Homo sapiens: one gene and its partners. The protein of the gene in region 5 purifies or fractionates together with the protein of the main gene of each other region. This does not show direct contact. Each region holds a gene or a part of one and is shown on either strand. Other genes may lie near its edges.

Evidence for each region.
Region 1: the proteins of NAF1 (region 5) and CHD8 fractionate together in Homo sapiens (co-fractionation; one large-scale study listed by BioGRID). This does not show direct contact.
Region 2: the proteins of NAF1 (region 5) and SHQ1 purify together in Homo sapiens (affinity purification with western blotting; 2 studies listed by BioGRID and IntAct, with this or other methods). This does not show direct contact.
Region 3: the proteins of NAF1 (region 5) and DHRS2 purify together in Homo sapiens (affinity purification with mass spectrometry; one large-scale study listed by BioGRID and IntAct). This does not show direct contact.
Region 4: the proteins of NAF1 (region 5) and VANGL1 purify together in Homo sapiens (affinity purification with mass spectrometry; one large-scale study listed by BioGRID and IntAct). This does not show direct contact.
Region 6: the proteins of NAF1 (region 5) and INSL6 purify together in Homo sapiens (co-immunoprecipitation; one large-scale study listed by IntAct). This does not show direct contact.
Region 7: the proteins of NAF1 (region 5) and NOP58 fractionate together in Homo sapiens (co-fractionation; one large-scale study listed by BioGRID). This does not show direct contact.

What each region holds. Positions count from the first base shown.
Region 1 is NC_000014.9:21,449,624-21,453,123, forward strand, and holds part of CHD8 (chromodomain-helicase-DNA-binding protein 8), read right to left. Parts: intron 1-3,500. UniProt on the Homo sapiens protein: ATP-dependent chromatin-remodeling factor, it slides nucleosomes along DNA; nucleosome sliding requires ATP. Acts as a transcription repressor by remodeling chromatin structure and recruiting histone H1 to target genes.
Region 2 is NC_000003.12:72,838,446-72,841,945, forward strand, and holds part of SHQ1 (protein SHQ1 homolog), read right to left. Parts: intron 2,755-3,500; coding exon 2,600-2,754; intron 1-2,599. UniProt on the Homo sapiens protein: Required for the quantitative accumulation of H/ACA ribonucleoproteins (RNPs), including telomerase, probably through the stabilization of DKC1, from the time of its synthesis until its association with NOP10, NHP2, and NAF1 at the nascent H/ACA RNA.
Region 3 is NC_000014.9:23,642,752-23,646,139, reverse strand, and holds the end of DHRS2 (dehydrogenase/reductase SDR family member 2, mitochondrial), read right to left. Parts: intron 2,989-3,388; coding exon 2,921-2,988; intron 2,030-2,920; coding exon 1,978-2,029; intron 1,732-1,977; coding exon 1,597-1,731; coding exon of another isoform or gene 1,586-1,596; intron 1,314-1,585; coding exon 1,258-1,313; intron 999-1,257; coding exon 887-998; coding exon of another isoform or gene 838-886; 3' UTR 501-837; downstream 1-500. UniProt on the Homo sapiens protein: NADPH-dependent oxidoreductase which catalyzes the reduction of dicarbonyl compounds. Displays reductase activity in vitro with 3,4-hexanedione, 2,3-heptanedione and 1-phenyl-1,2-propanedione as substrates.
Region 4 is NC_000001.11:115,679,970-115,683,469, forward strand, and holds part of VANGL1 (vang-like protein 1), read left to right. Parts: intron 1-2,394; coding exon 2,395-2,528; intron 2,529-3,500.
Region 5 is NC_000004.12:163,139,391-163,142,890, forward strand, and holds part of NAF1 (H/ACA ribonucleoprotein complex non-core subunit NAF1), read right to left. Parts: intron 994-3,500; coding exon 833-993; intron 1-832. UniProt on the Homo sapiens protein: RNA-binding protein required for the maturation of box H/ACA snoRNPs complex and ribosome biogenesis.
Region 6 is NC_000009.12:5,179,140-5,182,639, forward strand, and holds part of INSL6 (insulin-like peptide INSL6 precursor), read right to left. Parts: intron 1-3,500. UniProt on the Homo sapiens protein: May have a role in sperm development and fertilization.
Region 7 is NC_000002.12:202,289,763-202,293,262, reverse strand, and holds part of NOP58 (nucleolar protein 58), read right to left. Parts: intron 2,941-3,500; coding exon 2,806-2,940; intron 2,139-2,805; coding exon 1,993-2,138; intron 1,947-1,992; exon of another isoform or gene 1,835-1,946; intron 487-1,834; coding exon 360-486; intron 213-359; exon of another isoform or gene 129-212; intron 1-128. UniProt on the Homo sapiens protein: Required for the biogenesis of box C/D snoRNAs such as U3, U8 and U14 snoRNAs. Part of the small subunit (SSU) processome, first precursor of the small eukaryotic ribosomal subunit.

The DNA of each region.
Region 1 (3,500 bases), on a different chromosome or scaffold from region 5:
AACAGATTTCAACCAGCACTTGTGATCTAGAGTAACATCCCAGGTAATTCAACTAATCACTTTTATGTTTGTAGGAATATGTCAGTGTCTATTTCTTAAGTATTCAATTTACTTCACAATACCTGCTTGTGGTAACTTTTAGTTTCCAACTGACTAGACTGTCCCTTGGTAGTTCACATGCCCAGATCCAGCTTACTTAGCTTTTGACTCCAATGACTTTCAGGAGCGTAGTGAAAGGAAGTAACCACTGCCTACACTATATAGTTAAATTTTCATTTAAAAAAGCAGTCATATTTGTAAAACAGGCGAAAGCACTAAATTTTATAGGAGAATTGATATGCAAATTAAGGAAGAACTGACTAATGTGCCCCAGACCCAGGAAGGGGAGGAAAAACAAGAATGACTGAGTACTGAGTAGAAGAAATGAAAAATACTGAGTAAAAGTTCAATGTTTATGCAACTTGCTAGCCCCTATTCAAAAATCCACTAATTTGTGCAGCAGCAATAGAAAATGAAAAAAAAGATGAAAAAATTCAGAAATCCAGAAACATCTTACCATTAGTGCTGTTTACTTAGATAGATGTATATCTGATAAAATCATGTTCCATACACGAAATTCTGTTATGATTTGGGTGTATCTAAATAAGCAGCCAAACTATAGAAATCACTGGTTTCTTCCAGAACTAACCAAAAAGAAATTCCCATATCACTAATATGACAATGTACTTCTGAATAACCATATCCCAAAGAAATAATCCCCAAAGATATAGTGCATCCCCAAAGCATGTAGTGGAAGAAAAAAAGAAAGCAGGAAATTCCAAAGGTTTCTATAATAACACAAGAGACAATCTGAGAAACCTTAAACATTTTACAACTCTCAGCTGAGCACTGTGATATGGGCCGGCCTGTAACCCCAGCTACTTGGGAGGCTGAGATGGGAGGACTACTTGGGCCAAAAAGTTTGAGGTTGCAGTGAGCTATAATTGCACCACTGCACTCCAGCCTACATAACAAACACAGTAAGATCCTGTCTCTTAAAAAAAAACAAAAACAGAAAAAAAGAAAAAAAAAAGCGTAAGACCTTATAGCTGTTCAGTAGCCTTCTTCTCAAATAAAATTAAGAATTCAGTTACTATATATCCTTTATTGGAAAGCTACTGACATAGTCTTAGAAGAATTACAGACTCTGAAAACAAAAAGGTGTTATTAGGAAATTACTCATCACTGGAATATTGAGACACTACCCAAAGGATTGGCACTATCACATTTAAGGTGCTAACATACAAGGGAGCAATGAAGCACAGTCCTGGAAATTATCTGGTAATTTCAGTAGCATGCTATTTAATTGTCTTTTTAAAATGAAATAAACAACAAATAAAATGAAGTCATATACAATAAATATCTATGAAATATTAATATACAAAGGAAAGAAAATAAGGGATATTTCACTCCTTAAATGACAAGGTCAACCCTTTCTTAATAATTACACATAACAGTAAATCATAGTTCTGGAAACTCTTTCCAAACAAACTAGTGAGAATATACTACAGGAAAATCTGAATTTGAAGAGGTTAGAATGTTGTCTAAGATCCCTACACTGCTCCACTGCTTAAAATATATTCCTGGATCTTTCCCTGCTGAAGACTAATGTAAAAGTAATTATCGGCTGGGTGCGGTAGCTCACACCTGTAATCCCAGCTCTTAGGGAGGCAGAGGCAGGAGGATAGCTTGAGCCCAGGAGTTTGAGACCAGCCTGGCCAACATAGTGAAACCCCGACTCTACTAAAAATACAAAAAATTAGCCGGGCATGGTGGCACGCGCCTATAGTCCCAGCTACTCGGGGAGGCTGAGGCAGGAGAGTCACCTGAACCCGGGAGGCGGAGGTTGTGCTGAGCCGAGATCGCTCCATTGTACTCCAGCCTGGGCAACAGAGTGAGACTCTGTCTCAAAAAAAAAAAAAAAAAAAAAAAAAAAAAAGTAATTATCTATGCCAGGCTAATTTCTATCTATGCCTGCTGGAATTTTTATTATCCTGTACCATACAATTAATGGGTAGAAATTACGTGCTTTAAGTCTCCTGCTGCAACCTGAAGGCAACAAATAAGATATTTTGAAGTTGACCATTTTGCTTCATGTAACATTAACAAACTAAGGGCCTAGTGAAGGATGGAAACTATATAATTAATAATAAAAGGGCAAAAGAAATGTTACCTAGAGAACAGCTTAATGAGAAACGTCAGAGATTAAGATACTTTGTAGTTTAAACGTAAAACATTAAGTAACTACAAAGAGGTGGACTTATTTTACAATACAAATACAATGAAAACTTTAGAGTTTCATTTAAAGTTTACTCACCCACAAAACTGAGAGATTAAAGGAGAAAAAGGTTATCCAAGACAAAATCTAGAATGCAGTAAATGTTTTGTTGTTGTTTTGAGACAGAGTCTCGCTCTGTCACCAGGCTAGAGTGCAGTGGCACGATCTAGGCTCACTGCCATCTCCGCCTCCCTGGTTCAAGTGATTCTCCTGCCTCAGCCTCCCGAGTAGCTGGGCCTACAGGACCACGCCACCACGCCCAGCTAATTTTTGTATTTTTTTAAGTAGAGACGGGGTTTCACCATGTTGGCTAGGATGCCCGCCTTGGCCTCCCAAAGTGCTGGGATTACAGGCGTGAGCCACTGCACCCAGCCAGAATGCAATAAATGTTAAATAAACTTTAGGTAAAAGAAAACTTCAGGCCTGGTGTGGTGGCTCACGCTTGTAATCCTGGCACTTTGGGAGGCCGAGGCAGGCAGATCAGCCTGAGGTCAGGAGTTTGAGACAAGCCTGGCCAACATGGTGAAACCCTGTCTCTGCTAAAAATACAAAAAATTAGCCAGGCGTGGTGGCACACGCCTTAACCCCAGCTACTTGGGAAGCTAAAGCAGGAGAATCACTTGAACCCAGGAGGTGGAGGTTGCAGTAAGCCGAGATCGCGCCACTGCGCTCCAGCCTGGGAGACACAGGGAGACTTGTCTCAAAAGAAAAAAAAAAAAGAAAACTTCATACAACAATCCCATTACATAGAAATACAACTGTCAGCCGGGCGCAGTGGCTGACGCCTGTAATCCCAGCGATTTGGGTGGCCGAGACAGGCCGATCATGAGGTCAGGAGTTAAAGACCAGCCTGGCCAATATGGTGAAACCCTGTCTCTACTAAAAATACAAAAATTAGCCGGGCATGGTGGTGCGCGCCTGTAGTCCCAGCTACTCGGAAGGCTGAGGCAGAAGAATCACTTGAACTGGGAGGCAGAGCTTTCAGTGAGCAAAGATCGCACCACTGCATTCCTGCCTGGGTGACACAGCGAGACTCCATCTCAAAAAAAAAAAAAGAAAACAAAAAACAAAGAAATACAACTGTCAGGCTGGGTGTGGTGGCCCACACCTGTAATCCCAGCACTTCGGGAGGCCAAGGTGGGTGGATCACTTGAGCCGAGGAGTTCAAGACCAGCTGGGGCAA
Region 2 (3,500 bases), on a different chromosome or scaffold from region 5:
ATTAAGCCATTTTAAAAGCTTAGAATAATAAACATTAAATTCAGTGGTTCATTTCCTTTTTTATTTTTTTGAGATGTAGTCTCACTCTGTCACCCAGACTGGATGGAGTGCAGTGGCGCAATCTCGGCTCCCTGCAACCTCTGCCTCCTGGGTTCAAGCGATTCTCCTGCCAGCCTCCAAAATGGCTGGGATTACAGGCATGCGCCACCACGCTCAGCTAATTTTTGTATTTTTAAGTAGAGACAGGGTTTTGCCATGTTGGCTAGACTGGTCTCAAACTCCTGACCCGCCTGCCTCAGCCTCCCAAAGTGCTGGAATTACAGGTGTGAGCCACTGCACCCAGCCACAGTGGTTTATTTCTGATGGGAAACAGAGGGATGTAAACAAAAAGGGATTAGACAGGAGTCAACTATATTGGTTAATGTTTAATGTTTTTAACCTAAGTAATAGATGTCTAGGTATTTGATACATTAGTTAAGACATCCAAAAAGAAAGTATAGCAGCTTAAAAAAAAAAAAAAACCTAAATTATTAAGTGAACATTTTCAAGATACAAGAATTTCTGACCTAAAAGGCACTCATTCTAGGCTCACATTATGGCATTCCTACAACATCTCAGCAACCTGTCAGAAATCTTTCAAAAGGATTTTCCGTAAACAGAAGCAACAATTAAGTAACAAATCCCTGGCCTCAAAGAAGCACTTCTAATGTAAATGTAAAATCCATACTTAGCCTGTGTGACATTTATTATCATTCATGTACAGCGTTAGATTGGCAAGCCCAAAACAGCCTGACCACAAACTATCTCTTGGCCAACAATTGAGGGCCATTCACTGTAGTTCCTGCTACAGACAAAACTGACTCTACTCTAATTACCTCTGAGATCACCAGCGATTGTGATCAAGCAGAGAATATGGGCAGACCACAACTCAGCAGAAAAACACCTAAGTTTTTAGAAGGAAGGCTATTTCACCAGCATTTGCTCCTAAGTAAATCTCAATGTTGTTCCCTTTAAGGAATTTTGAGACCATTTTATATTTTTCAAAGGCAGGAGTCTTTACAGCATTCTACACTTTCCAAAGAGTTTTCACATGCATTATCTTTTTAAATTTTCAAGACAGCCTTATAAAGTAGGTGGGCAAATTTATCTCCACTTTCCAAAGAGGAGACAAAACTTACTTGTGGTCAAATAACTGGCCTGGTATCCCAAATCTTAACAGAGGTAGGAGCGGGACCAGAACCCAGGTCTTTTCCCTCTCCTTCGTAAATTCAAATATGTCTTAAGATAATAAACCACATTCTAAACAGGTTTTGTTTTGTTGTGTTTGTTCTTTGAGACAGAGTCTCACACTGTTGCCCAGGCTGGAGTGCAGTGGCGAGATCTCAGCTCACTGCAACCTCTGCTTCCCGGGTTCAAGGGATTCTCCTGCCTCAGCCTCCTGAGTAGCTGGGACTACAGGTGGGTGCCACCATGCCTGGCTAATTTTTTGTATTTTTAGTAGAGATGGGGTTTCACCGTGTTAGCCAAGATGGTCACGAGCTCCTGACCTCGTGATCCACCCGCCTCAGCCTCCCAAACTGCTGGGATTACACGCACCACCACATCCGGCTAATTTGGCCAACATGGCAAAACTCCATCTCTACTAAAAATAGAAAAATTAGCCAGGCGTGGTGATGGGCGCCTGTAATCCCAGCTACTTGGGAGGCTGAGGCAGGACAATCACTTGGACCCGGGAGGCAGAGGTTGCAGTGAGCCAAGATCGTGCCACTGCACTCCAGCAAAGTGAGACTCTGTCTTAAAAAAAAAAAAAAAAAAAAAAAGAATAAATAAACAATAGGCTGGTCACAGTGGCTCATGCCTATAATCCCAGAACTTTGGGAGGCCAAGGCAGGCAAATCACTTGAGTTTGAGACCATCCTGGCCAACATGGTAAAACCCCATCTCCGCAAAAAATACAAAAACTAGCCAGGCGTGGTGGTAGGCACCTGTAATCCCAGCTACTCAGGAGGCTGAGGCAGAAGAATTGCTTGAACCCTAGAGGCAGAGGCTGCCATCAGCCGAGATCGTGCCACTGCACTGCACTCCAGCCTTGGCGACAGGGTAAGACTCCGTCTCAAAAAAAAAAAAAAAAAGAGAATAGAAAATGGTGCCTACTATACACCAAGAATTAGACAATTTGATCAAAACACACAATCTCATTCTCGCCAGGAACATTCTATTTCATTTATATACAGAAAAGAAGAGACATCATGCCGTAAGTACATGATCTCACTTTTCAGAAGTATAAAACATAAAGCTTTGCAGGAAGTATGAGAGAGGAGTTCTGCTTTGTACTTGGGAAACTTCATGTCTAGAATACTGAATAAAGGGGAGAAAAAAGAAAGCCACGGGGTGTCTGTAAGAGCAGTACAGTTAGGCAGAACAGCCAATGAAATGGAAGGGAATGCACATCTATGTACTTTAGCTGTGCTAAGTGCTTTAAATACAATCACCTCCTGTAATATTATTTTTAAAAACTACCAAGTGTAAGCATAACTGAAATTAAAATATCCAAATGGAAAAACCCTATAGATCAAGATCTTTCAGAAAGACAACATACCTGTAACCGTTGCAACACTCCTGATCGTAAGTTTCCAAATCCATAGTGGCACTGCGGATTCAAAGCACTTTCTGATACCTCTTCACAGGGTGTCTGCTCAATTTCCCAATCAAACTCTTCATCGTCAACTACTTCCTCAGGAATCTCAGAAGCACCTGAATGTGTTAAATTTTAATTTTTTTTAAGTATTGGATTTAAGTACAACTAGGGGAAGAAAAAGTATAGGAAAAAATGCCCACAAAGATGTACCAAAAGACATATACCAAATGTACTAAAAGAATATTCATAGCTCCGCTATTCGTGACAGCAAAAAAAAAAAAAGAACCAAAAATGTGGTATGTTCATACAATGGAATATTACAGAGCAATGAAAGCAAACGAATCTCAGCTAGAATATGAATAAATCTCACAAAAATAATGTTAAGTGAAAGCAGCCAGACAAAAAGAACACATACTGTATGATCTACATATGCAACGTAAAAACAGGCAAAACAGAGGATAGTGGTTACCCTGGAGAGAGGGCAAAGTAATGGAAGAATACAGGATGGTATTCTTCGGGTGTTGGAAATGCTCCATTTCTTGACAGAGGTGGTGTTCACTTTACATCAGTGGTTCCCAAACTTTTTGGCACCAGAGACCGGATTTGTGGAAGACAACTTTTCCACAGATCAAAGAGGTAAAGAGATAGTTTTGGGGGATGAAACTGTTCTACCTCAGATCATCAGGCTTTAGATTCTCATAGGGAGCACACAACCTAGACCCTTCGCAGGCACAGTTCACAGTAAGTTCATGCTCCTATGAGAATCTAATCTGATCTGACAGGAGCCAGAGCTCAGGCAGTAATACTCCTGGCCCTCCGCTCACCTCCTGTTGTGCAGCCAGGTTCCTAACGGGCCATGGAT
Region 3 (3,388 bases), on a different chromosome or scaffold from region 5:
AGAGTGGTGCTCAGGGCCACGGATGGCTCGAGGACCACTGTTCCCCCTCCACTGTGCTGAGCCTCAGTATGCATACACAGAGGGCGGTGCCCCCGAATATGACTCAGGACAATACACAGGGCCTTTTCTGAGAAAGCCATGTGTTCACCCCAAGAGGAACTTCAGCTCTGACTACTCTCCTCTAACTGGAATTATGCACAAGATTCGGTATAACTGTTTTCTCTGGGTTCTCAAAGGCCTGTGTGGCCCAGAAAACATTAAGAAGTATTAGCCTGGAGGACCCCTGGGAGAACCCCAGAATCTTTCCACTGTCACCCACCACCACCTTGCTGAGCCCCCAGCAGGCCCAGTTCAGATAATGGAGCACACACAAAGCCTTCTGCAAGGCAGCACACTCACTCCCGCCTCTGTGTGTCTGCGACGAGCTCAGGGCAGCTGGCGGTAGAGGCCTCTTCCCACCATGCTGCCCTGGGCTCTACCCTTGACAGATGCTTCCAGACTTGAGGATAAATTTGAGTTTATTTTAGGAAAAAAAATGCTTAAAGCACAAATTACAGAGAGGAGGAGCTGAAATCCTTCAAAGGCCTGAGCTTCTACTCCTTTCCCTTAAGATTCCTCCAAAGCACCAGCTCCATAAAATCCTTCAGCTCCCCAGACCCACACCAAGAACCCCACATGTTAATTGGATCAGCCAAATCTACAAGCAGATAAGTCCTAAGGAGAATGCCGAAGCGTTTTTCTTCTTCCTCAAGCCTAGCATGAGTAAGCCCCCAAATTGCTAGTCTGGCAGAATGGCAGACTCTGCCTCCAGATCCAAATGATCACCTAGACACCCCCTCAGGCTCCTGGGCCTGGGACCACAGCTACGCAGCCGCCCCCACTCCTCTCAGAGCCGAGTGGAGTAGCCTGCCACCGCAATGTTCTCCCCGTTGACGTAGCTGGCATCTGGAGAGCACAGGAAGGACACGATTCCTGCACAGTCCTCTGACTCCCCAATCCTGGATGGAAGAAGGACACAGTGTCAAGCATCTTGTACTCTGATTCTGCTGCTCTGGGGCTCACGGATGACAGGTGGGAGTGGGCTCCATGGGGAACAAGGTGGATGCAGCAGGGCTACTTGCACCCTCCAGGGCCATGTGGACTCCAGATTTCAGCAAAAACAATGGCCAGATGACAGGGAGGGGTCTGCTCTTGCAATAGACTCAACTGCCCCTGCCTAGCCACACATGGACCACCAAATCTCCAAACCCCACTTGCCTCTGCAGCTGATGATGTTCCTTGAAGTTCTTCCAGAGAGACTCATTCCCATGAAACTGGGCAAAGGGAAGAAATGAAGGAGTCAGTGCTACTAAAACAAGATGGGCAGGGCCCCGGGAAGGCCACCAGGCAGAACACCTAGGGCAGCTTTGCCCTTCTCAAAAGAAGGAGCATCTTTTCAGGATGGATGGACTGCACCATGGCTGAGTTCAGAGAACAATGAGGACCTCAGTCATAGGCATGCTGACCTAAGGATTCAGTCACCCCTTGATCCCTTATTCACTGGGAAGGGTTCCCACTGAGCCAGACTGGGAGATGGAAGACACACCCAATCCTCACCACTTTGCTGAAGTCAGTTTTGATAATTCCTGGAACCACGCAGTTTACCCGGATGTCCTTGGGGGCCAGCTCCAATGCCAGTGTTCTAGTGAGACCCAGCAGCGCTGTCTTGCTGACATTGTAGACACCCAGCGCCTGGGAAGGGAATTGACAGAGTGATTAGGATATGGGAGAGTGGGGGAAAGCATCAGTTGGATTTCTCACCTACAGGGATCTCACAGGCCCAGCAGCCCTCCCACCCACATGGAGACAAGCTCAGCCCAGGGCAGCAGGAGGATGGTGGGGGTCTGTCCCAGGCACTTTGTCTGTAAGGCTCTGAGGAAAAGAACAAAGTTGCCCCTCACCCTATACCACTCAGGAGCACAAGGACCAAGCACTTACCACTACTGGATTATAAGCTGCAATGGAAGAGACCAGGATGACAGCACCCCTCCTGAGACAAGACAAACATAAGAGAAGCTGAAGCTAAGAGCTTACCACTGATGGTGACACTATCATGAGTTCATTAAATGATGCAACCCTCACAGAAGCAACACAGGTCCTATTACTGTCCCCATCTCAGAGTTCAGAAAACTGAGGCTCAGAAAGGTTTAGTACCAGCCAATACACGGCAGAGCTAGGATTCCATGCCTATTTCTCATAAATACGATGTCCATGCTCAGAACCCTTATCTTCTGCTTCCTCTCTTGCCAGGTGCTTGAAGGAGAGGGCAGGGTGGGCTTTGTGAAGAGGCACCCAAGGCTGATGGTGAGTGCCTATCAATGAGCAACCTCTAAGGAGCAGATGGGGTAAGGGAGACCAGAAGTGACAGTCAGGAACTTTCCTTCTACTGAAGACAGCCCCTGGCCAGTTCCTAAGGGTGTGTCTGTGAGGGGTACAGTCAGATCTGCAGGACCTGGAACACAGGCAGGGTCCCTGGAGACCAAGCGCAGGCATGAGGAGAGGTCTGGGACAGGCTTTTTCCTATGGAGAGGAATGGGGCTAACCCTGTCATTGGTTTTAAGTTGGTAAGAACAGAGAGCAGGTAAGGTGACAATGACCAGCCCACAAGGTCAAGGAGTTAAAGCATAGCCTTGTCCCAAACCTGCTGATGTCAAGGCCAAGGAGGCTATGCCTGGGCCCCTGGAATACTACTCTCATCCTGCAGCCACTGGAATTGGGAATGGCAGCCACACAGATGGGGAGGCAGGACAAGAAGATGAGGGATGTGGAGATCCCAGACCTCTTCTGTCCTCTACCCACTACTGGCTGTGCTACCGACTGTATTTCTGTGCCCACCTCAGGTCCCCAACTCCGACTGGTCCCCACCCCCGCCCTGCCATACCTGTTCTCCATGTAGGGCAGCAACTGGCTCAGCAGCAGGGCTGGGGACTTCACGTTCACACTTAGGATCTGAAATCAGAGCAGAGCATGGGTGAGGGCAGAGAGACATGGTCAGCCCAAGTCCTGCTCTCATAAGACACTTGGAGCCCTGTAATTTGTGCAGTAGACCCAATGTATGTGCATATAAGAGAAACCAATCCCCCTTCTGACTGGTGCAAGAGGTATTTCCAATTTGCTAATGGTTTCATAGGCAGGCAGGCTAAGTCACAGGCCTGTGAGCAGAGCCCTGAAAATGTGAATTGTTCAGGACTGACACGAGGAAGGAAATGTTCAGGCCTTTTAAAGAAAATGGGGACTGGGGGCAGTGGGTCATGCCTGTAATCTCAGCACTTTAGGAGGCCAAGGTGGGAGGATTACTCAAGGCCAAAAGTTCAAGACCAGCCTGAGCAACATAGTGAGACCTTGTCTC
Region 4 (3,500 bases), on a different chromosome or scaffold from region 5:
GGCACACACCAGGGAGTGTGTGTGTGTGTGTGTGTGTGTGTGTGTGTGTGTGTATGTGAGAGAGAGAGAGAGAGAGATCAGGGAGAGGGTTGCAATGAATCTCTGGATGGGGTAGGAATAAAGAAACACTTGCCCCTCTCTGGAGAATGCCATGGACAGGGGGCAAGGACGGAGTTGGAGCCACATTGACTTGGAGATTGCCAGGTGAGACCTTCAGGGCAAGCAGACTAGACTTCTGCAGGAAGAGCTCTCGTGACACACAAACCTCCACGGAAGTCCGCCTCCTCAGGAAGGCTGCACCCTGTCCCAGGCAGCCAGAAGCTCTTCTCCGTGGTTACTCAGCCCCACGTGTTCCAGCATGAGAACATACTCACTGTCATGGGGTTCATGCTCCAGGTACCAGCTAAGGTCTATCTTCATATTCCCAGGGCTTAGCAGACACAGGCACTCAAATATGGAATGACGAGTGAACAACTGAGTAACTGAATGGTCAGAATTTTCAAAATGCAGATTTGCTGTTAGGAGTCTTAGGTTTACTTCCATTATGCAAAGTTGGTCTCACCGGATTTCCCCTGATAGTGTTCCCCAGCCTCACATGACTGTACATTATCTAGGACGATATTAAGTACCAACTGAATGCGGGCACTGTTGGGGATATAACTCAGAAAGTTTTACCATGATTCTGCTCTTAAGCAGGTTAGCTGACTGACTTCCATATTCAATTCTGTTCAAGTCTTGAAGCAGAGCTCCAAGGGGAGCCAAATGGGTGGGTAGACAGAATTTCCAGTGGATAGTTTAGGAGCTCCCTTGTCTTGGTGTGAAGTGAGGATCCCTGAGCCACCTGGAGAGTGTTGGAACACAGTGTGGTCATCCAGGAATCAAAGGGAGCCCCATCCTGGTGCTCTGGCTACTGCAAATAATCCTTGTAAGCCGATCTGCTTAGCAGAGTACTAGAAAGGAAAATCCAAAGGGCAAGATAAAAATATATCTGTGGTATTTAACATGGTGGTGGTTGGAGATGTCAGCACGTACGCTGTTACACAGAGTCCGCATGTTACCGGGAAGCCCAACTTGGAGGTTTGTAAATCATATCAGAGTTCCAGCTCTCCTGTTTATTAAATGCATACTGTTGTGCAGGTCATAGATTTTTGAGCCTCAGTTTTCTTACCTCGAATGATTGTGAGGGTTAAATGAGAATCAGGTATGTGCAAACCCTTGCTGTATCATTGCAAGGTGTTCTTCAAAGTGGCAAGTGTTCTGCACCATAGACCAAGGGCATATTCTTTTGCTGTCTATACTCATTTCCAATTATAAGTACCCTCCCACATCCTCTCTCCCACTTGTTGATGGTACCTGTTCTTTGTTCCCCTGCTGCTCTCTGAGGACCAAGCAGGGGATAGTTGGAGACCTAGAATATCGGAACATAGATAGTCACCTTCATACCCCTCTGCCAAAGGCCAGAGATAGCACTCCAAGGGGCAGGGGGACCCAGAAAGATCAAGTGGTCTCAGCGGAGGCTCTCTTTTTTTTGTTGTTTTTTTTGTTTTTTTTTTTGAGACTGAATTTCACTCTTGTTGCCCAGGCTGGAGTGCAGTGGTGCAGTCTCGGCTCACTGCAACCTCCGCCTCCTGGGTTCAAGTGATTCTCCCGTTTCAGCCTCCCGAGTAGCTGGGATTACAGGTGCATGCCACTACACCCCGGTAATTTTTGTATTTTTAGTAGAGACGGGGTTTCATCATATTGGTTAGGCTGGTCTCAAACTCCTGACCTCAGGTGATCTGCCCACCTCAGCCTCCCAAAGTGCTGGGATTACAGGCGTGAGCCACCGCGCGTGGCCAAGGCCCTCTTAAGTACGCTCTGCCCTGGATGGCTGCAGTTGTTCTGGTCTGTATAAAACCTAAGTTCCAGGATTCCTTATACCCAGGGATACCAAGGCCTAGGGGACAAAACCCTGAATGAGGACCTGAGAAACCTGAATCTATACTTTGTTCTTTCACTCATTAGCTCTGCAACCATTAGTAAGTCTCTTGCCCTTTTGGGGGCATCCTCAGTTTCTTCTTTTGTAAACCGAGGAAAAATAGAAAAAGTTCTTGTGTGCCTAAAGCTAAATGTAAGTTATGAGTTACAACTTCTTCCTCTTTCAACAAAGGGCTAGATGGGATGTGGCTAATCACAGGTCCAGGAGAGGGCACAGAAGTCACCTGGCCATGGGGCTTAGTTTCAGCTTTAAGTTCTCATCCTGGAGACCAGAAGTGTGGTGGAACCCAGTGGACTTCTGTATGAGATTATCTTTGATGTTGTGTTCCTTTACCTGACTCCAAAAGAGGATTTTTCGTTTAGGACCTGCTTCTTCAGTGAAAAAGCTTTGCATTAATTTTGTTCTTTTTTTCTCAGTATCCAGCGAGCAGCATTGGTGGTCCTAGAAAATTACTACAAAGATTTCACCATCTATAACCCAAACCTCCTAACAGCCTCCAAATTCCGAGCAGCCAAGCATATGGCCGGGCTGAAAGTCTACAATGTAGATGGTATGTGCCTTGAAAGGGTGTCCGTGGTGCTCACAGGGGCACAGTTGGGTGACTATTTAAGATTCATGGTACGTTTGGTTCGACTTCTTCTCTGGGCCTACCTTTATGGTACATTCTTGTTTCAGAACAATTTCTCTTTTTTATGTAGGCAGACACATGTTTAGAGGAATGTTGATTTACCATCTACCTGTGTTGGAAGCCTGTTCATTTTGGGATTTTATGATTGAAAACAGCAGCGGTGTGTGTTTCCTGCCTTCTGCCAGGATCATCTTATATTGGAAGCTGTTAGGAAAGGGTTGCTTTTCAAAATTGGTGCACATTACCCACAAACTCAGAAAGCTACCTAAATCATTAAGACTAGAAATCTCAGTAGTCCAGGCATCTGGTGAGATACCTGCGGGCACTTCTTACTCGTGGCTAGGAGCCGGAGTTGAGTGGGTGGCAGGAGGCTGGAGGCCAGGCTGGGTAAGTCCAAGCTATGTTTCAGGGTATCACATGGTTAAGTGCAAGAAACAGGATGCGGTGTCATTTCTTCCTGGGTATGTTGGGTGAGGGCAAGAACTTTGCAAACCCTAGGAGAGGATTATATTTTCAACAAGTCAAGTGATTTATATACAGTGTCAGTTTTTGTTGGCAATATCCTTTCAGTTATTTGTTTGTTCATTTTTTTTTGGCTATATGAGGTGTGAGCTCCCTCACGAAGCCTGAAGGATTGATAAATTTCACCTGTGATCTAAAAACTTAGGAAAGATTCCCACTAGTGAAACCAAGTCACCAGCCAAGTAGATCATCCGTAAGAAAGCCTGAAATCTGCCTATGTTTCTGAAAAGTTAAGGTGGTCAGTGGTCAGGGGACAGGACAGGACTTCTGAGTCTGTATTCATTAACGGGTCACGTTGCACACCCTCAAGCATTGGTATTTCCTAGAAAAGTTGTGGCTGCCATGACATTCTAGCATAGCTTGCTTTCCATT
Region 5 (3,500 bases):
AATTTGAAAATATTTTTAGTGGCTCATATTCATTACATCATTCGAAAGCATTCAAGTTATTTTTATTAAAAAAAAATCTTAAATTCATATGCTATTTGCTGATATAAAAAATTAAATAACATAATTATAACAAGTTTAGCTGATACAAACAGCTCTACAACTAACAGCTGGCAACAGCTAACATTTGAAAAATATTCAACCAATGGGAGCACAAATATAAAAAAATATTGCGGTCACATGCCACAGAAATCACTTAGCATTATTGATAGACAAAATGGAGAGCACTGGTTTGTTGGTTAGGTCAACTCCATACACCGTAACTTTCTACACAATTTTTCAGGGACACGTGTTAGTTGTCTCTTCTACAAACTTAAAATTTATAAGCAAAATAAAGAGATAACACTCATTTTTTTTCTCTTGAAAACTATTTTAAAGTTTTATTGAAGAGCAAGGCCCCTAAATAGAATCCAAAGAGAATTTTACTTAACTGAAAAAAAAGTTATTAAGAAATGATAATAATATTAGTACTAATACTAAAATAGTAAGTACATTAAAGAATGTACATAATGGAAAAAACACTGAACTAGAATCAGAAAGTGTACATGGCTCAAATGTGCTCTTAATGGCTGATCATCTCATTTTTTACAAAAGATATGAATTCTACGTACAAAATCTGAAAATAAATTGTAGGCTTCAAAGATATTATTAGGAAGATAAATGAACTCTTTGCAAGACACACACAATATAACTGTAAGAAATTACATCACTGAGAATTATTCTTAAAATATAAACGTTAGGTAAGTGAAGAACAACATGCCGGTAAAGTACTTACTGTTTTAGTTTTTCTGTGAATATATATTGAGTGAAATCTTTCATTGATGGAGCAAAATACATAGTCTCCTTTATTTTAATACCTTTACTCTCAATGTGATCTGAAGAATTAAACCGTAACACATAAAATGGATGTGCAACAGGTCCAAATATCTCGAATATCTGTAATAGAAACATAAAGGCCTCTTTTAACATGTAAAATAACTATTTGAAAAGTCAGCAGTGTTTTCTTTTAAAAATCCCACTGATAATTGCCAGAACAAGGTAATTTTGTCAGTGTTAGGGCAATAAAATAATTTTTTAGTTATATTTATGTCATTTTTACATATTCAGTCTTCATATATTGATTAAAATGCACTCGCTCATTCCAGATTTCCCTTCTATGAATGTGAAACAATAGTAACAAGTTTGTTCCTCACCAAATTCAAATCATTTTGATGGTACCAACTCGATGCAAATTATGATTTTTTTAAATTATTGCTCATTTAACTTGTAAAGTACACAGAAAAGGATTATAATTGGTAACTTTTGAGAAAACTGTATACATTTGGAATCATCAGATGGGAAATATAAAAGCAAGCTTCTGACTTCAATAGGAGTTAAATCACTTTTGCTGTTTCCACAGTGTTAGGAATTTTGTAAAATTACAGACTTTTTCTAATTTAACAACTAATAAAGTAGAAGTTATTTATGTTTAAAAAACACAAAGATGGTGCAGCCTTTAACATTTAACTAAAAGAACTGCTTTTAGCAGAACCACATATTTTACTTCTGAAAACGTTTTAAGAATAATGAAAGGAAACTTCTTGGTTTCAAATTGTACTTTCTTCTCAAAATACGTGAATTAAAAAATATATTTTCTGGCTGGGCGCAGTGGCTCACGCCTGTAATCCCAGCACTTTAGGAGGTGAGGCGGGCGGATCACCTGAGGTCAGGGGTTCAAGACCAGCCTGGCCAACATAGTGAAACTCTGTCTCTACTAAAAATACAAAAATTAGCCGGGTGTGGTGGCAGGCACCTGTAATCCCAGCCACTCAGGGGCTGAGGCAAGAGAATCACTTCAACCCAGGAGGCAGAGGTTGCAGTGAACCGAGATTGTGCCATCGCACTACAGCCTGGGGGACAAAAGCGAGATAATATATGTATATTATAGAGATAAGACCATGATCAATGCCAGTATAGATTTTTCCAGTCTTTTTTCTATAATACGTTATTTTTTTCTTTAAGACCATACTGTAGTTTTGTATACTGCCCCCTTTTAAAAACCTAAAGTTGTTCCATGTTATATTCTTTGTAAGTATAATTTTAGCTATCATAAAACACCCCTTTACAGACTCAGGACAACTTACTTAACTTCTTTCTTATTGTAGGACATTTAGGCAGCTTCCAATTTGTTCAACATAATACATGATGCCATGATAAACATATATAAATCACTATACTTCAGACTTCCTAAAAATTGATTTGTAAGGAGTGGAGGTATTGAAGCTGAAAGTACGATAATTAACACTAAGGCATAAAAGTTTTAATGGAAATTACTAAATAGCTTTCTAAATAGCTTGGACCAATTTATACCAACTGCATTGAACATGGCTGTTTTATCACATCCTCAGTTCTTGATTTTTGATAGTAAATGCTCTTCACATTTTATGATTTCAGTACAGCACTGAATCTTTCATTAATTTTCATTAAGGCGTAAAACAGCTCACCTATCAGGGCACCACCATTCTGAAGATATGTGTACTCTAAAAAGAAGTAGTGACATTAAAAACTATTAAAATGCCAATGTATTATGAAATAACACTAATAGCATCACAAATTTAAAGCTTTAAAAAAGTGTAAAAGCAAAAAACTTTAAGAAAATAGCAAGACATCTGCTTTGAAAAGGTTTAGATAAATCCAGTAGACCTCGTCCAGTAAGAACTGTGAAGGACAGAAGAGGTGCACTCAGCACCACTCTTACTGGCCTACATGACATATATTATTGTAGTCTTACTTTCACTTAAAATTGTCTTAAAAACAATTCACAAGTTTAATTCTCTCACATATACACAAACCCAATTCTTCATTTGGTCAGAGATTTAAAAATATCTTTTAAGTTTCCTGTGTATCCATTAATACAAGGTAAAATAATCATCGTTTGCAACCTGGTACACAGACTGTTTCCCAGGGATTTGTTTCCTAGATAGCATGAATCCATTTCCTAAGTGTGAAAAACAATTTCAGTGGAAAAATTCCTTGCCAACTTCAGGTCTGTGCAGTATGGTTTGAACTAAAATATAAGTGACATTCAAAATTCTTGGACAAAAGCAAAGCATAGTATTTTAGTTGACTGTTCCTAGGTTCTGAAGTGTTTATGAGCCACAACTATAATGAAATCATTATAAAGTTTTAAGTAAAACAACATCACAGGCAGTAGATAACAGGAAGCCATACAATAGACAGTATGTGGCATGAGCCAATACTAATAGGTATGTTACAGGAAAACTTGACCAAGTTCACATAAGCAATTTGGCTAATCCAGAGTAGAAAAGAGGAATTTAACAATATTTTAAATAACCATTAGCCTCTGAGTGTAGAGTTTAGATTGACTAACACCTGAGAGCTAAACTGTAAAGAGCAACTTAAGACACAGCAAGGCTCAGGCCGGCCCACTTCTCCTCATACAG
Region 6 (3,500 bases), on a different chromosome or scaffold from region 5:
ATCTATAAGTAACTTAAACAAATTTACAAGAAAAAAACAACCCCATTAAAAAGTGGGCAAAAGACATGAACAGAGAGTTCTCAAAAGAAGACATATATGTGGCCAACAAACAAAAAATAGCTCAACATCACTGATCATTAGAGAAATGCAAATCAAGATTACAATGAGATACCATCTCATGCCAGTCAGAATGGCTATTATTAAAGCTAAAAAACAACAGATGCTGGCAAGGTTGTGGAGAAAAAGGAACACTTTTACACTGTTGGTAGGGTTCAACCATTGTGGAAGACAGTGTGGTGATTTCTCAAAGACCTAGAGGCAGAAATACCATTTGACCCAGCAATCCATTACTGGGTGTATACCCAAAGGAATGTAAATCATTCTGTTATAAAGATACATGCAAGCATATGTTCATTGCAGCACTATTCACAATAGCAAAGACATGGAATCAACCTAAATGCCCACCAATGATAAACTGGATATAGAAAACTTGCTACACATACACCATGGAATACTATGCAGCTATAAAAAAGAATGAGATCATGTCCTTTGCAGGGACATGGATGGAGTTGGAAACCATCATTCTCAGCAAACTAATGCAGGAACAGAAACCAAACACCACATGTTCTCACTTGTAAGTGTGAACTGAACGATGAGAACACATGGACACATGCAGGGGAAAACACACACTGGGGCCTGCCTGACAGGGGCCCTGGGGGAAGGGAAAGTATCAGGAGGAATAGCTAATGGATGCTGGGATTAATACATAGGTGATAGGATGATCTGTGCAGCAAACCACCATGACACACATTTATCTATGTAACAAACCTGCACATCCTGCACATGTACTCCTGAACTTAGAAGGTGAAGCAAAAAAAAGAAGTCAATCCTCTTCAAATTAGTGTATATATTCTGTTGTGGGAAGTCAGGGACCCTGAACGGAGGGACCGGCTGGAGCCATGGCAGAGGAACATAAATTGTGAAGATTTCATTTTAATATGGACATTTATCAGTTCCCAAATAATACTTTTATAATTTCTTATGCCTGTCTTTACTCTCTTAATCCTGTTATCTTCGTAAGCTGAGGATGTATGTCACCTCAGGACCACTGTGATAATTGTGTTAACTGTACAAATTGATTGTAAAACGTGTGTTTGAACAATATGAAATCAGTGCACCTTGAAAAAGAACAGAATAACAGCAATTTTTAGGGAACAAGGGAAGACAACTGTAAGGTCTGACTGCCTGCGGGGTTGGGCAAAAAGAGCCATATTTTTCTTCTTGCAGAGAGGCTATAAACGGATGTGCAAGTAGGGAAGATATCACTAAATTCTTTTTCCTAGCAAGGAATATTAGTATTAATACCCTGGGAAAGGAATGTACTACTGGAGGGAGGTCTATAAACAGCCGCTTCGGGAATGTCTGTCTTATGTCGTTGACATAAGGACTGATATACGCCCTGGTCTCCTGCAGTACCCTCAGGCTTACTAGGGTGGGGAAAAACTCCACCCTGGTAAATTTGTGGTCAGACTGGTTCTCTGCTCTCAAACCCTGTTTTCTGTTATTTAAGATGTTTATCAAGACAATACATGCACCACTGAACATAAACCTTTATCAGTAGTTCTGCTTTTGCCCTTTCCCTTGTGATCTTTATTGGACCCTTATCAGTAGTTCTGCTTTTGCCATTTGTCCTGTTCCCTCAGAAGCATGTCATCTTTGTTAGACCCTTATTAGTAGTTCTGCTCTTTGCACTTTGAAGCATGTGATCTACTCCCTGTTCTTACACCCCCTCCCCTTTTGAAACTCTTAACAAAAAACTTGATGGTTTGAGGCTCAGGCCAGCATTAGAGTCCTACTGATATGTGCTGTCACCCCCGGCGGCCCAGCTGTAAAATTCCTTTCTTTGTACTCTTTATTTCTCAGCCAGCGGACACTTATGGAAAATAGAACCTACATTGAAATATTGGGGGCGGGTTCCCCTGATAATATTCCACGCATCCCAAATAAAATTCCATGTGGACTTTTAAAAAAGAAATTCAATAAGCATACTTTTAAATATATATGAAAGAATAAAGGTTGAAGATTTAGGTTAGTCAATCCTAAGGGAAAAAATAAACATTGAAGACTTGTCCTGCCAGATAAATGACATCCTATAGAGTCACAGTATCAAAAATAGTAACGATAAAAGGCCAAATAAATGACCAATTAAATAAAATAGAAAGCTCAAACTTATCAGTAATGGTTATCCCACAAATTAGTGAGAAAAATAATTGATTAGTAGAAAGTGTTCAGAAAACTAGCTCCCTATGTAGAGAAAAAAAGACTTACTGAGAAAGTGAGGTAATATTCCTACCGAGACCAGAACTAAAAATTAGCCTAATAATTAAGGACTTAATGTGAAAAGTAAAACTGAAAAGTTAACAGAAGGACAGAAAAGGACCTCTAATACATAAGGCAAAACACTTACTGCTTAATTATATAAAAGTTAAGGCTTTCTGTCAAGCAACAGCAATAGACAGATGTCAAAATGGGAGAACATATTTGTGACATCTAAAACCAACAACTAGTTGTTACTGTATCTAGATTTGATTAACTCCTATAAACCAACTGGAAAATGATAACAATTCCAACAAGAATTGGGCAAAATATATAAACAGGAAATTTTAAGAGAAAATCCAAAAGGTTAACATGTATATGAAAAGATGTTCAGACCCAGAGCAAGTTAAAATAGAAATATAGTGTCATTTTACATCTATTACACTGGTAAAAGTTAATAACTGTATAATGCTAATTGTTGACATAGATATGAGGACACAGGATTGGTGGTGCAACTATACATTGGTGTAGTCACTCTGAAGAGCAATCTGATACTCCTCAGGCAAATTAAACATACACATACTTCATGACACAGCAATTCCACTCTAGATGTGTATCCCAGAAACACTTCTAGGTTCATAAGGGGACACATACAATGATGTTCATGGCAGTGTTATCTGTAGTGGTAGGGAGTTCAAGGCTACATAGGTTAGGTGTTCAAAACTGAATAAATCAGTAAAATGTGAGGAATGCACATGAGTATTATGCAGTAGTTAGAAGCAATGGACTAAATGTTCACATAGCAACAATAAGATATAGATCTTAAATGCCTTTTAGATATATCTTAAAACATATGAACAGGAAAGAATGCATAATTTGCAAAAACTTATAAAAACAAAAAATATATAATAAACACATTACAACAATTGCCAAGGAGAGGAGGAGAATGGGAGTGGAGAAAGGGGCTAAGTGAGGATAATCACCTTCTGTAAATTATAATTTACTTATGTTAATTGTCTATCTTTACTATTCTGTAGGCTTCATGAGGGTAGGAGCCTTCACCGTTTACTCTAACATCCCAATCACCAAGAAGAGTGCCTAACACATGATAGGTACTCAAATTTTGTTGAACTAATATATAAAGAGAAGGGCCCTTTACAGACTAGTTGTGATGATATCTGAAA
Region 7 (3,500 bases), on a different chromosome or scaffold from region 5:
ATTTCTTAAAACTGTATTCAAATCTAGGTCTAGTGAGTTTTTATTATGAAAATGTTAACTGTTTTATCCTCCTGCATTCATCCGATTGTTCTAATTAACCCTAACAAACTTCTAACAATGGACCACAAGTGTCTCAGAAGAGGTAGTGACTAAAGATGCCTTCATTATCCAAAAGGAAATCAGGCAAACAAATAGAAATCATCATTGAACACTTGGCCCTTAGTGATCTCCCACATATCATCTACTTTTGTGTTATCAGCTAAAATTTCTTTAACAGCTGTAGTTTAAAGATGTAAACAAAATCCTAACCAGAAAATACTTCAAACACTCATATTTACAAATTACATTAAAACCATCACCTGCATGAGCAATAAGCCGTGCTCCAACTAATTCCCCAACCATGACTGTAACATTGGGTGCAATGGCCATCATTCGATTTTGTAGATATTCATAGAGCTGGGTTCGATATTCAGAGATTTCAATCACCTAGTATAAGGAATAAAGTTAAGTCACAAATATCATATGAGTAAAAACAGTAAAAATTCCTGTCTAAAACACTGGAGCCCTCAATTATGAAAGAGCAGCTACACAACCCTGGGTACTGGGTACATCACCTATGCCTAACATCAGTTTTCTTTTTTTTTTTTCCCAGGCTGGAGCGCAGTGGCGCAATCTCAGCTCACAGCAATCTCCGCCTCCCGGGCTCAAGTGATTCTCCTGCCTCAGCCTCTGGAGTAGCTGGGACTACAGGGGCCCGCCACCACGCCCAGCTAATTTTTTGTATTTTTAGTAGAGACAGGGTTTCACCATGTTGGCCAGTATGGTCTCTATCTCTTGACCTCATGATCCTAACATCAGTTTTCTATAAGATGGCTGTAATGAGGACTTCGTTATATAATGTATGTAAACTACTTGGTCCACTGCCTGAAAATCTTAGTCAGCGTAACTGTATTTTTAAAAGATTCTAAGCAGCCCAGGCACAGTGACTCACACCTGTAATTCCAGCACTTTGGGAGGTCGAGGCAGGTGGATCATGAGGTCAGGAGTTCAAGACCATCCTGGCCAACATGGTGAAACCCCGTCTCTATGAAAAATACAAAAATTAGCTGGGCATGGTGGCACGTGCTTGTAATCCCAGCTACTCGGGAGGCTGAGGCAGGAGAACCGCTTGAACTGGGACCTGGGAGGCAGAGGTAGCAGTGAGCCTGAGAACGTGCCACTGCACTCCAGCCTGGGCTACAGGGTGAGACTCTGTCTCAAAAAAAAAAAAAAAAAAAAAAAAAAAAAAAAAAAAGATTCTGAGCAATAAACATTTGTATCATGCTCTTTTTAATTCCTATATGGCTACCTTCAAATCTGAAAGAAAAAAAAATCACAAGATATAGACATAAGACTCAGAATTAAAAGGCTCAATCCATAATTGTCTGCCATCCTTTTTTTTTTTTTTTTTTTTTTTGAGATGGAGTTTTGCTCTTGTTGCCCAGGCTGGATGCAATGGTGCCATCTCGGCTCACTGCAACCTCCCCCTCCCTGGTTCAAGCGATTCTCCTGTCTCAGCCTCCCGAGTAGCTGGGATTACAGGTGTACGCCACCACGCGCAGCTAATTTTTGCATTTTTAGTAGAGATGGGGGTTTCATCATATTGGTCAGGCTGGTCTCGAACTCCTGACCTCAGGTCAATCCCTGACTCGGCCTTCCAAAGTGCGGGGATTACAGGCGTGAGCCAACGCGCCTGGCCTTCTCTGCCATCTTAATTGATTTTTGGTTAATTCATTATTCAGACGATGATTGTAAATTACTTCCTTTTAATATGTATTTCCCCCTTTTAAGTATACAAATCATGATGGCATCAGATGAGGTAGTGACTGAACACCCTCATATTTATGTTATCAGGTGAACAACAATAAGTGTAAAAATCATCATTGCCATCAGAAAAATTAGTACTATAGAGCTGGTAACACCACAACTAGATTCTCCAGGAGTAAAATTTACCTGGGTGCAAAGATGCAGAATATTGCAAATATCTTCTTCTGAAACCTCTGTTCCCATTGATATCTCTGCAGCTGCTTTCACTTCTGCTTCAACTTCTTCTGGCAGCAACTCAGAAAGCTTGGCAGAGGCATAGTTCTTCCTATCGCCTATGGAATGTTTGCAGAGGATGAGGGAGAATCACTCTTCAACAAATTATATAAAATCCAGCAAATAGTCAAAAGAAAAAGTAGAAAGCCAATGAAAAGGATGCCTAAACAAAACAAAAAAAATGAAGAAGTTTGACCTAGTATAACAGTTTTCCTCATTTAAGGGTTTAAGTTTAGACATTAAATGTCTCCCCACCACCTTCTTCCAAAAAATAATCAGAGTAAAAAGAGGACAAAATATGCCACAACACTTATTACAGAATATAAGTGGCAAAAATTTAAAAAAGACAGGACTAATAATAATGTCACAGACAATTTTATACTGAAGCTGGGGCCAGTAATTCGTAAGGCAAGTAAACCATCAATCAATCAAGTTCCTCTGTACGTTAACGACAATCAACAATCAAGTTCCTCTGTATATTAACAGTACAGACGGCAATACTGCTATTTAGCATTAGGTACTAATATCATGTTATAGGCCATCAAAATCTAAGTTAAAATTCATTTTGTTTCTTAAATTTAAGACACTAAACTGCTACACTTCCCAAATACACAGAAATTGCAAAAACCCTGGGAATCTTGCTTAACAAAATGCTATACGTCATGTTTTAGGATGCAATCAAATTCATTTACTTTCAATGCCTTAAAGGATGAACAAATTACTCACCAACTTTCTGTAAACACTTGCAGTATGTTAAATTATCTGAAATAATTTTTCCTAATTCAGGGAAATGCCAGCCATACCATTCTCTACATCGCATAATGTAGTTGTTTAGTTCTTTATCCAAGTCATCTAACAAGGCTGTAGTAGATTAAAAACAAACAAACAAAACTTAAAGGGATTTATTGTGGTAAAACATACACAACATAAAATTTAACACTTCAGGCTGGGCACGGTGGCTCATGTCTGTAATCCCAGCAGACAGGCATATCACGAAGTCAGAAGTTCAAGACCAGCCTGGCCAACATGGTGAAACCCCATCTCTATTAAAAATACAAAAATTAGCCAGGCATGGTGGTGCACACCTGTAGTCCCAGCTACTCTGGAGGGCTGAGGCAGAAGAATCACTTGAACACAGGAGGTGGAGGTTGTAGTGAGCCGAGATCGTGCTACTGCATTCCAGCCTGGGTGACAGAGCAAGATTCCGTCGCAAAAAATTTAAAAAAAAAAGAATAAAAAATAACACTTCAACCATTTTCAAGTGTACTATTCAGTAGCATTAAGTATTCTTATGATGTTATGCAACCATTACCAGGATCTATTGCCAGAGCAATTTTATCATCAGAAACTGAAAAATTCTGTACCCATTAAACAGTAACTCATTCCCACCTTCCCCCCAACCTCTAGTTATCTTTATACTT